3 linked regions of the Homo sapiens genome follow. The protein of the gene in region 1 purifies or fractionates together with the protein of each later gene. This does not show direct contact. Each region holds a gene or a part of one and is shown on either strand. Other genes may lie near its edges.

What was found.
Region 2: the proteins of SRCIN1 (region 1) and CKAP5 fractionate together in Homo sapiens (co-fractionation; one large-scale study listed by BioGRID). This does not show direct contact.
Region 3: the proteins of SRCIN1 (region 1) and RIMS1 purify together in Homo sapiens (co-immunoprecipitation; one large-scale study listed by IntAct). This does not show direct contact.

The regions. Positions count from the first base shown.
Region 1 is NC_000017.11:38,529,432-38,533,007, forward strand, and holds the end of SRCIN1 (SRC kinase signaling inhibitor 1), read right to left. Parts: 3' UTR 600-3,576; downstream 1-599. UniProt on the Homo sapiens protein: Acts as a negative regulator of SRC by activating CSK which inhibits SRC activity and downstream signaling, leading to impaired cell spreading and migration. Regulates dendritic spine morphology. Involved in calcium-dependent exocytosis.
Region 2 is NC_000011.10:46,762,754-46,766,407, forward strand, and holds part of CKAP5 (cytoskeleton-associated protein 5), read right to left. Parts: intron 2,504-3,654; coding exon 2,378-2,503; intron 878-2,377; coding exon 728-877; intron 427-727; coding exon 223-426; intron 10-222; coding exon 1-9. UniProt on the Homo sapiens protein: Binds to the plus end of microtubules and regulates microtubule dynamics and microtubule organization. Acts as a processive microtubule polymerase. Promotes cytoplasmic microtubule nucleation and elongation. Plays a major role in organizing spindle poles.
Region 3 is NC_000006.12:71,892,941-71,896,594, reverse strand, and holds part of RIMS1 (regulating synaptic membrane exocytosis protein 1), read right to left. Parts: intron 1-3,654. UniProt on the Homo sapiens protein: Rab effector involved in exocytosis. May act as scaffold protein that regulates neurotransmitter release at the active zone.

The sequences.
Region 1 (3,576 bases):
AGGCTGAGACCCAATTCAGGGGACTACTGGAGGTCATCAGCCCTGCTTGGTTTCAGGGTAACCGTGGGCTTTGGTGTCAGGCAGAGCTGGATTCAAACTTACTGGTTTGTCTACAACCTACCAGTTGTATGACTCTGGGTAAGATGCCCAACATCTCTGAGTTTTGTCACTTGCCTGAGTAGGTAGTGCCGGTAGCTACCTCACCGATGGTTGTGAGGGTTAGGCAGGACACCTCCTGGAATGCCAAGCTGAGAACTGGTTTTTTTTGTTTTGTTTTTGTTTTTTGAGACAGGTTCTCGCTCTGTCATCCAGGCTGGAGCGCAGTGGTGCGATCTTGGCTCACTGCAACCTCCACCTCCTGGGTTCAAGCGATTCTCATGCCTCAGCCACCCGAGTAGCTGGGATTACTGGTGTACACCACCCCACCTGGCTAATCCCAGGGGCCCTGTTCTGTCCTCCCCCTCATGCTCTGCCAGCTGAAGGCCAGTGGCTGCCAGGGATTCCCCACCTGCCACCCCACCCATCCCAGCACCTTCCAGATCCTCCAGGGTGAAGCAGAGAAATAATGAGACATCAGCCTATAGGAAGGAGATCCAGGAGAGGAAAAAGAAACAAGTTTTATTAAAGCCCCAAACACTTGGCTAGAAAAACTGAAAAGGAAAGAGAGCAGGGAGCGGGGGAGAAGAAAAAAGGACATTAAAAAAGAGAGACAGAGAAAACACAGCAACCCTTTTCCATTTAGAAATTGTCAAGTTACACCGACAGAGGTCACAGAATATCCACAGAAGCCATCACTGCTACACCAACATGGGCCCTACAGGGTGGATGGGGCAGGGTGTGGAGCCGGGGCTCACCCCGGGGGGCCCCCTGGGGACCCCACTCAGAGCCTCAGGCCTGAGGCTCCTGGGGAAACAGCATATTGTGGAAGGGGCAGGAAATCCCCCATGCGAGTAACACAGCACAGTGGGCGGGGGCTGAGAGGACCAGGTACAGGGGTCCCCCGAGACGTCTTAGTTTTCTCTTGGTCAAGCACACACTGATGGACAGAGCAGCGAGGCGCATGCAGCTGGGGGCACTGATGTGCTGCAGGCTGTGAGAGGGCCAGCGGGGACGGGGGCTCAGGAAGGGATCTGGAGCCAGTGGTGCAGGGATGATGGAACACACGCACACAGAGGCACACCCACACACTTGGGTCTGCACCAGCACACATACCTGCACACACACACTCGGAGACACAGATTACATGCACCTCCATGTATGCGTCTCTATCCACATGTACGTGGCCCACACACAAGTCTCTGGCTCTCGGCATGTCTGCACACACATTACACATGTTCTCACACACAAAGCTCCTCTCACGCTAACATGCAGGTAGGCACGTGCCAATGCCCAAACAGGTTACATGCACCTATGTGCCCACGCCTTCCCCCACACATGTGCTCGGCCATGCCTGTGGGTGCAGGCCCCATGCGTCTGCACACACAGTGCATGGGCTTGTGCCAGCACACACACAGGCTGCACGCAATTCCACACGGATGCCTCCCAGCCCATAAATGTGCAGGAACCAAAGAGAAAGAAAGATGCAAATCCCACTGGGCTTCACCCGAGCGGGTGGGGCGGGGCACGTGGCTCCCTCCTTCTGCCCCTTCGTGGATGGACACTGCCCCCCCCACCTCCCCCACAAAGGGACATTCAACTCAGGACAATGACGGTGGGGCACACATTCCAGTCACAGGGCTGAGGGTGGGAGCTGGGGGCAAGCGAAGTAGCAAGCAGAGAGTAATGGAGTGGAGGGAGGAGGGGGCACCACTCCCCCCTCCCCTCCCAAGTCAGGGGGTCTCTGTACAGCCAAATCAAACCAGACCATTTCACTGGGACCACAGAAGCCAGGCCGACGTGCCCGCCCCCCAGCCCCCCTCCCCCGCCAAAACAGTGGCCAGGGAGAGTGCCGTGGTTTTCTTTTTTTTTTCTTTTTTAAATATTTATATATATTTATATTACGTATATTATATATATAATATGTAAATATATTTTTAAAACAATATAAAATGTTAAGACACTTCACTTAAATGTAAAGAGTTGCCTGCAATTAAAAGTAATTGCATCATTTATGAGGTCCTTTTTTTTTTTTCTATTTTCCAGGGTTTTTTTTTTTTTCCAGGAGGGATTTTTTTTTTCCTCTTTTGTTATTTTTCAAAAAGGCTTGCTCGCCTTGGTACAAAAATGATCCAAAGCTAGAAAACAAGGATGAACCAACAAAGGCAAAAACAAAAAAAGAAATGAAGAAACACAACCCGTTTCCCCTCCCCCCAAACCTTCAACAGCTCCCAGCTCTCCCCAGGTGCGGACCTTCCCCAGCCAGGCCCCAGGGTCTGGGGGGCTCTGCCTTCTGCGCAGCTCCTCCTTTCTGTGCTTGCTATGGGGGACTGATTCTAGTCCCCCTCCCCTGTGCTTACTTCACTTTGTGCTCCAAGTGGGAATCCTGCGGCCGGGGACCCCGCTCCTCCTCCTCCTCTTCTCCTATCCTCTCCCTACCGGCTCCTCACTGTGCCCTCTGGGGGGCCAGGAGTGAGAACCAAAATTGGCCTCTCTCTGCCTCCCCAGGACCCGGCCAAAAGCCAGGCGGCACTGCCAACCGCCTCTGCAGGGCAGGCAGGGCGTCCACAGGCCAGGGGCGCTGGCTGGATGGTCAGGCCTCAGGGACCTTCAGACATCTCACCAGGGTCACCAGAGCCCCATTGAAAAACTACGTCTCATCCTTTCCTGGGAAAACCCTCAAATTGCCAAGAGGATGACTGAAGTTCAAGTCACCCCACCTGCGGGTCCCAGGTGTCTTCAGTGCTCCCCGTCAAGCCCCTCTCGACCCTCCCATTTCCCTCAAACCAGACCCTTCCCCCAACTGCAAGCCACAAAACCTGGTTTTCTAGGCCCCTCACTCTTGCCCACCCCATCCCCATTCAATAAGTTAATGCCATTTAAAGTGCTAAATCAGGAAACTAAAAGTACCAAATACCCGTCCGGGCCGCCCTCTCCCAAGGCAGTGTCCCCGATATCCGGCTGTCCGTGCAACCCACCCTCCACAGCCAGCAGACCAAAGGGCCTCTGCCCTCCACTCCCCACTGGACGGCAAGGCCCAGGAGGCCAGCGCCTCCCCAGGGATACAGACTCCATGGCCTCACACCCACCCTGAGGCCTCTCAAACTCCGGCCTCGTCTCCAGCCTGTCCGTCTCTACTCCAGGCCCACTTGGGTGTGAGTGGGAGGAGGCAGAGCAGCCACAGAGGAAGTCACAGTCTTGTCGGAGCTTAGACAGGGAGTGGGGCATCTCCAAGGCCAGTCTCCCTAAGCCCCGCTCTCTGGCTTGATGTATGGGTTGGTCCGATGTCCCCGCGTTCCTCCAGGAAGGTATCGAGAAACGGGAGAGGGGTCTCCCACTGCTCCAAGTCTCCGTGGTTCAGAGTTTGTTTGGAGTATTCTTGGGAAGTGAGGGGAAGGCGGGAAGGGGGTGCAGGAGCTTCAGGATGGACTGGGGGAAAGAGTGGTGAAAGAGAAGAAGGAGAGATGTGACAGGTGCGGC
Region 2 (3,654 bases), on another chromosome or scaffold:
TTCTCCAACCTAGTCGATAAGGAAAATAATGATTAAGTGAGGCATTTCCTAAGTAGCAATGATTCTCCCATGCATTACTATGTTTTGAAAGAATAGGGAAATAGGGATAAGTAGGGAAGGTACCGTGATATAATCAGTAAAAAAGGGAGAGGAAATAAAAGTACAGAAACTGAGGTCAGCTGGGAACTTAAGCAGTCTCCCAGAGAGAGAACACCACATTACCTTGACGACAAGATAGGGGATGAAGGAAGATGCTTCATTCTCAGTAAGATGATATTCTTCTTCACTTAGCAAGGTGAAGAGCAATTTTAAATATTCTAGTGCTTTCATCAGGACGCTTGTATTGGTGTCAAAAAACCTCAGGGTAAGCCACTTTAAGATAAGATCCAGGCAACCAATAACTCCTTCTTTTTCACTCTCCAAGTGCTTAAAATAAAACAAAACAAAACTCCCACAAATAAGAATAATCAAAATCTTAATTCTACTAGGCAAGTGTCTTTTAAATTTTATTGGAGCCCAAAAAGAAAATGACAGATTTTTAAGCCTTCAATTAAGACCTAAAAAATATACACACACATTCATTTATTCTACCAAATAACAAGACAGCTCTAAAAATAGAGAACATAGTATATTCTACTTCCAAGTCATGCAAACTTCAGATTATTTCATAGGGCTCGGTATTTTTACATGTCTGAAATACATGTATATTTATCTATTGCAGACTTACATCAACCATAACAGCAAGGGCTTTGTTATGATGCTGAAAGTCTGAGTGAAACATCTCATCTTGTAACCATTTAGCCACACAGCTAGACATTTGAGTCTTTAGTTGCTCAATGTATTCATCCCGTGGGGTAGTAAAATTCCACTTTAGCACCTGGAAAAAACAAACGGTGAAAAGGGGCTACAGGGTGTTCAACTGAAATGAGGTAGAGAGCCTTATATAATGCAGCTGCAGGAACAATAAAATATTTAAAAATTCAACAATATTCATTTGTAATTAAATATGAATGCAAATTTCAAGGTGTCATACTTCTTGAAGCTTAACAACTCTGAAAATCTTCTAGGAATAAAAATTTTTGGAATTGTTTGTTTTTGAGACAGAGTCTCACCTGTTGCCTGGGCATGGCAGAGTGCAGTGGCATGATCATAGATCACTGTAGCATTAACCTCCCAGGCTCAAGTGATTCTTCTGCCTTAGCCCCCCAAGTAGCTGGGACTACAGACATGCACCACTATGCCCAGCTAATTAAAAAATTTTTTTCGTAGAGATGAAGTCTCAATATGTTGTCCAGGCTGGTTTTGAATTCCTGGGCTCAGGCAATTTGCCTGCCTTAGCCTCCCAAATTGTTGGGATGACAGGCATGAGCCACTGTGCCTGGCCTTGCAATTCTTACTAAAGAAAAAAAAAAAATTAATCCTACATATAACTATATAACATGGTGGACACTGCTGCCACATCTTTGATAGAGAGAAAATTTGAAATATCTATCAAAATTATGCATATCATCATTCTAGGAGTTTAATATAGATACACTCACATATGTGTACAAAGACCTACATTCAAAGATATTCACAGCAGCAGTGTTTGTAATAGTGAAAGACCAGAAACAACCTAAATGTCCAACATAGTGGGCGAAGGATAAAGAAAGGTACATACATACAATGCACCAATACAAACAGTGATACACACATATATACACAGATACGAATGATCTTTCAGATATTTCAAACATCATTAAAAGAAAATAGTGAGATACAGAACAAACAGTACGGCATGTCTGTATATGCCATCTGTATAAAAGGAGGGCTATATAAAAATATACATATGATAGTAGAGGTATAAAATATTTCTGGAGTAATACATTGAAAAAATGAGGACTAATATCCTCCCTGTGGAGGGATACTGGAACAGAGACATGCTTTTCTTACTATACTTTGCACTTTCTGTACTGCATATAATTTTTAAAAAAGATTATGTATTTTGAAAACAAATTTAAGTATCTAATGAAATCAAAGTAACATAAATGACTGAACTAGCCATTTATACAGTCACAAAGTCTGCCTTGTAAGGTCTTAAAAAGAAGGATTAATGAAGAAGCTTATACATCCAATTAATTAAAAAAAAAAATCAATGAAGATACCAAAAAAGCTACTAAATCATTTATTTCTATTTACAGGGAAAAATAGGCAATAACTCTATTCTATAGTTTCTTTTGTAGGAATTAATGCTCCCATAAACTAAATAATATAATTTATAAGCAAAAGAAACACTTAATTCCTAGATATTAAACAATAACATGAATTCAGACAGCAAAACTATTCTTGAATAACAATACAAGCAAAAATCTCCTGACGATTCTTAATCCTTCCTTACCTTCAATCCTTTTTCATCTTTCATCCTTTGCTCTTTTCCATTTGGAACAACAATAAAAATAGGCCCGGATTTGTCTTCATCCTCCTTTAAGCTGGTTTTGCTTGGCATCTTCTTCCCTTGTGCACTCTACAACCAAGGTTCAGGGAATACTGATTAGCTTGGCCACTTCTCCTTAAGAATATGATGCTGCTGCCCAGTAAAAGGGCACTGTAGAAAACAGAGATATCTTTCTACGTGATATTTCACATGAAAAAAACATGCATCACAGAATCTTGTATATGTTTTTGAACAGGTTCTCTAGAAATTTTTCTGAGAATATTCTTAAGTAACTGTTGGTTAGTTCTTGGACTGGCATGTTATGTAGTTGGAAAAACTGCTATTACTGATCATTAGTCTAGGTCACAAACTTTTTGTTTTTGTTTTCTTGAAATCTTCAACACTATTTATAGCTTTCCATATTAATGACATCTTTTTTTTTTTTTTTTTTTTTTTGAGACGGAGTCTCACTCTGTCGCCCAGGCTGGAGTGCAGTGGCGTGATCTCAGCTCACTGCAATCTCCACCTCCTAGGTTCAAGTGATTCTCCTGACTCAGCCTCCTCAGTAGGTGGGACCAAAGGCGCCCACCACCACCCCTGGCTAATTTTTGTATTTTTAGTAGAGACAGGGTTTCACCATGTTGTCCAGGCTGGTCTCGAGCTCCTGACCTCAAGTGATCCACCCACCTCAGCCATTAATGACATCTTGAATGGCATTTACACATTTCCAAACACTTAGTTTGAAAGCTTTTCTGTTTCTTTCCATTGATATTTAAATGTATCTCTTATCATAACAGTGTAACTGAAGACCTTTTGAACTTGCTTCTAGAGAAAGTTACAAGAAATGCTTTAAATATTTAAGTCACTAAAGTGGTTTTAAAAAATAATCCAAGATTTAAAATCTTCATATCAGATAGAAAGAAAATAGTAAACAATAGTACACATATTTAAGGTAAAATTCAAATTTCATTACTGGAATCATTATTATTATAAATGTAGCATGGCCACTATTTCTAGTTGGCCACAATTTCTTTCTAGTATAAACACTAATGTCATTCAGACCAAACAAATATGAGATCATTTATATGAAACTGCTTCGTAAGTTTAAAAAGATTGGGAAAAAAATTATGGCATTAAGAACGGAGTCAAAAATACTGCAAAACACTCGTGATCTAAACTAAAATAAGCACTTGTTAAATTTGGGATGAGGACAGGCAGACAGGAAAAGAACAACGTCATTG
Region 3 (3,654 bases), on another chromosome or scaffold:
GTATCTGCTTCTTGTGGCCTGGTACCATGTTTATTTCTCTTCTATTGCATGTGGACCTCCTATAGCCTTTAACTATGCTGCATTTATGGAAGTCAGGGACTAGATAGCCCCTGGACTGATTATCCATCATAGTTGTACCCAATAGTGACTGTTAAAGCTTAGGCTTTTGGAGCTCTAAATACCATAAAATCCCTTTCTAATGCTTGTGTCTGGCATGATACTTAGACCATAATATCTTTTTCAGACTAGCATCAAGTTTTTACTTCAGGTTGCTATATATTAGGTGGCTAGATTTGACCTAGGGTATGCAGACAGCTGTAAATTGAAATATCCATTCTCAATATAAGAAGACTTTACTGTATTTTATTTTTCAAAATTACACTTTTATGAAAACTGTCACAATCATGAATAATATAAAATTAGAATCTCTTTAGGATTTTGGATCTTACTAAAATTTCAATATCTAAAATAAATGAGACTGTTCATTTCAATATCCCTTTATTCCAGATACTAGGATGTAAAATGTCTTCATTTTTTCCCAGAAACAAAGGGGTTAGGAAAGAAGGCTTAAGCTCCAATATATTGCAATACAGAGATAGCCAAGGAAGATAAATCTGCTAAGCTGTGTGAAATATAAAAGGAAAAGCCATTTGGTTACTTTACTTTTGTTTTCATCTCTTTCTACCAATACGCTAAGTAATCTTTCTGACCTGGATAGAACCTCTAAATGTGGATATATACTACCATATAGTTAAAGAAACCCAATACATTGATTTTTACATACCCTAGGTACTTCATATACAATCTGCCTATTTTTTCCAGAATAAAAACCACATAAATTGAAAACAAAACAGCTAGCAGCTAGACATCCTATCAAAGAGTTTCTTTCTTTCCTTCTTTTTTTTTTTTTTTTTTTTTTTTGAGAGGGAGTCTTGCTCTATCACCCAGGCTGGAGTGCAGAGGCACAATCTCAGCTTACTGCAACCTCCGCCTCCCGGGTTCAAGAAATTCTCCTGCCTCAGCCTCCCAAGTAGCTGGGATTACAGGCATGCATCACCACGCCGGCTAATTTTTTTATTTTTAGTAGAGATGGGGTTTCGCCATATTGGCCAGTCTGGTCTCAAACTCCTGACCTCAGGTGATACGCCCTTCTCAGCCTCCCAAAGTGCTGGGATTGCAGGCGTGAGCCACCGCACCCGGCCTCAAAGAGTTTCTTGTTACATTGGTTAAAAGCTGTGTTTAAACAACAAAAACAATAATATGGCACACAATGCTTGTGCACCAATAACTTACAACTTTAAAATATATTCTTGAGATTAAAAATAGTCTTCAAATATTAAGCAATACTGCTTTAAGTACAGAAAGCCATATGTAGGTATGTAAATTGTGAACTAATCAAATGGACGATGTAAAGTCCAGCAAATACAGCAAGAAAACTCCATCAAGATTACTACATTAGTTTCCACTTGTGAGTGTGTATATTATGCATGAGAGTCCATTAAAAGAAGCTAAGTAGTGTAAGACTTTTATATGACAGTACAGATATCTTAATTGGTTTTCAATTTACATACCTTCTCTATGTAAATATACTATCATCTTCCAGATGATAATTAAATTACCTGGCATAATGATGGGTAATACAAACAAATACTAAATAATGTATAAATCATTAGCATGGTATTATTTTCTATATTACACAAAATATCTTTCATTCATTATGCTTTAAAATAGCTAATATTATAATTAAGTGCATTGATTACTTACATATTGCATGAAATTACTTTCTATAACATTACCTTATTTTACTATCTAAACATCAGAGGAATTATCAAAATATTACAAATAACATGCAATTACTTTCTGTAACATTACCTCATTTTGCCATCTAAACTCAGAGGAATATCAAAATATTACATCCCAAAATCTATTTAAATAAATTCTCACACATTAAAGATGTCTTTGGTAAACTGCAGGCTGCTCTTTGCAAGGCTCAAAGGAGAATTCTCATAAAGACAGTCCTGTATGAAGTCGCAATTCATAACTACTATTATTTGAAAAATGTTTTGAAATTTTAAATTCAGCTTTGCCATAAAAAGCATCATTCTGTTGAGATTCCATAAAAGAGAATACCTTATTTCCTTTTTTTTTTCAGACAGAGTCTCACTCTGTTGCCCAGGCTGGACTGCAGTGGCAGGATCTCAGCTCATTGCAGCCTCTGCCTCCTGGTTTCAAGCGATTCTTCTGCTTCAGCCTCCTGGGTACCTGGGATTACAGGTGCACTCCACCATACCAGGTTAATTTTTTGTATTTTTAGTAGAGACGGGGTTTTACCATGTTGGCCAGGCTGGTCTCAAACTCCTGAGCTCAAGTGATCCACCCGCTTTGGCCTCCCAAAGTGTTGGGATTACGGGAGTGAGCCACCACGCCTGGCTGATAATACCTCATTCTCAGAAAAAGTGTTCTCCATTTACCAAACAATGATCAAGATTTTATATCTACCACTTGCTTGCATTACTTATTGTTGAGATATATTTTAACACTGTTAATTGCTTGATTTTCTGAAGTTATAAATGAAGAATTTGGGGAAGAGAAAGCAAGATTTAAAAAGAGGAAGACAATATAATTTGTCATCCGGGTTGAAACTCAAAATTGAGAGAAGGGGTTACCATACATAATAATAGCAGGAAATTGGTATAAACAGATAAAGGAAAATCAACATGTACAGTCACCTTCCTTTTAAACAGCTCTATTTTGCCTTTAAGTAAGCATTCGTATGAACAGGAAGTTTTCACAATATTGCAACAGAAGCAGAAACATCTAAAATCAATTCTGCAGAATAACCCCCTCTTGCTGTCCACAGAAAAGTAATCTAGTCAAAATAAGTGTATATAAACTCGATGTAAGAATGTGAGAATATAAATACAGAAAACCTAAGGCATCCAATAAAGAATCTTAAAAAGTTCTTAAACACATGCAATTTATTACATCACTCAATGGTAAACTGACATGAAAGAAAACTACCTGACAAATATACATGACCCCTTATTCAGCTAATTCTGAAAATGAAGAATTTATTAAACCCAGTGACACTAAAATTATTACTGTATTTCTCCAAATTTTTTTCTGTAAAAGATGAGGAAATTACCCCAAGCTAATTTCTCTTCTCATTTTTGAATTAGGATTGCCTTTTAGATCTTTCAAACTTTATCACTTTGCCCACATTGCTTTTTGTGCTAAAAACATGTACGAGCTATTTAATGAGAGGGGAAAAAAAAAAAGAAAAGAAAGAAGGTAAATATAGTCTCAGACCAAGCCCTGAACTCATTTTACCTTTTAACTCCTTGTCAAATTCTCACACTGGGAGCTGCAACCCTGGCAACACTGCATTGCTAGCATGAAAGGATAGGTGGGCTCTTCTCCAAGAGCTCATCTTCCCAAGCCCCCTAGTACCTTCAAAGACTACTGGAAAATATAATCTTGGTGTTCTACAGTTTTAACAAATAAGCATAATAATGGCACCTTTCTTGGAAACAGCAATTTGGAGGATATGATGACTCCACTATCATTTTAAAGCTTCACAGATTAGAAGGACTGCCATTATAAATTCCACTTTACATATAAAATCTGATGCTTGGATGGATTATCTTGACAATG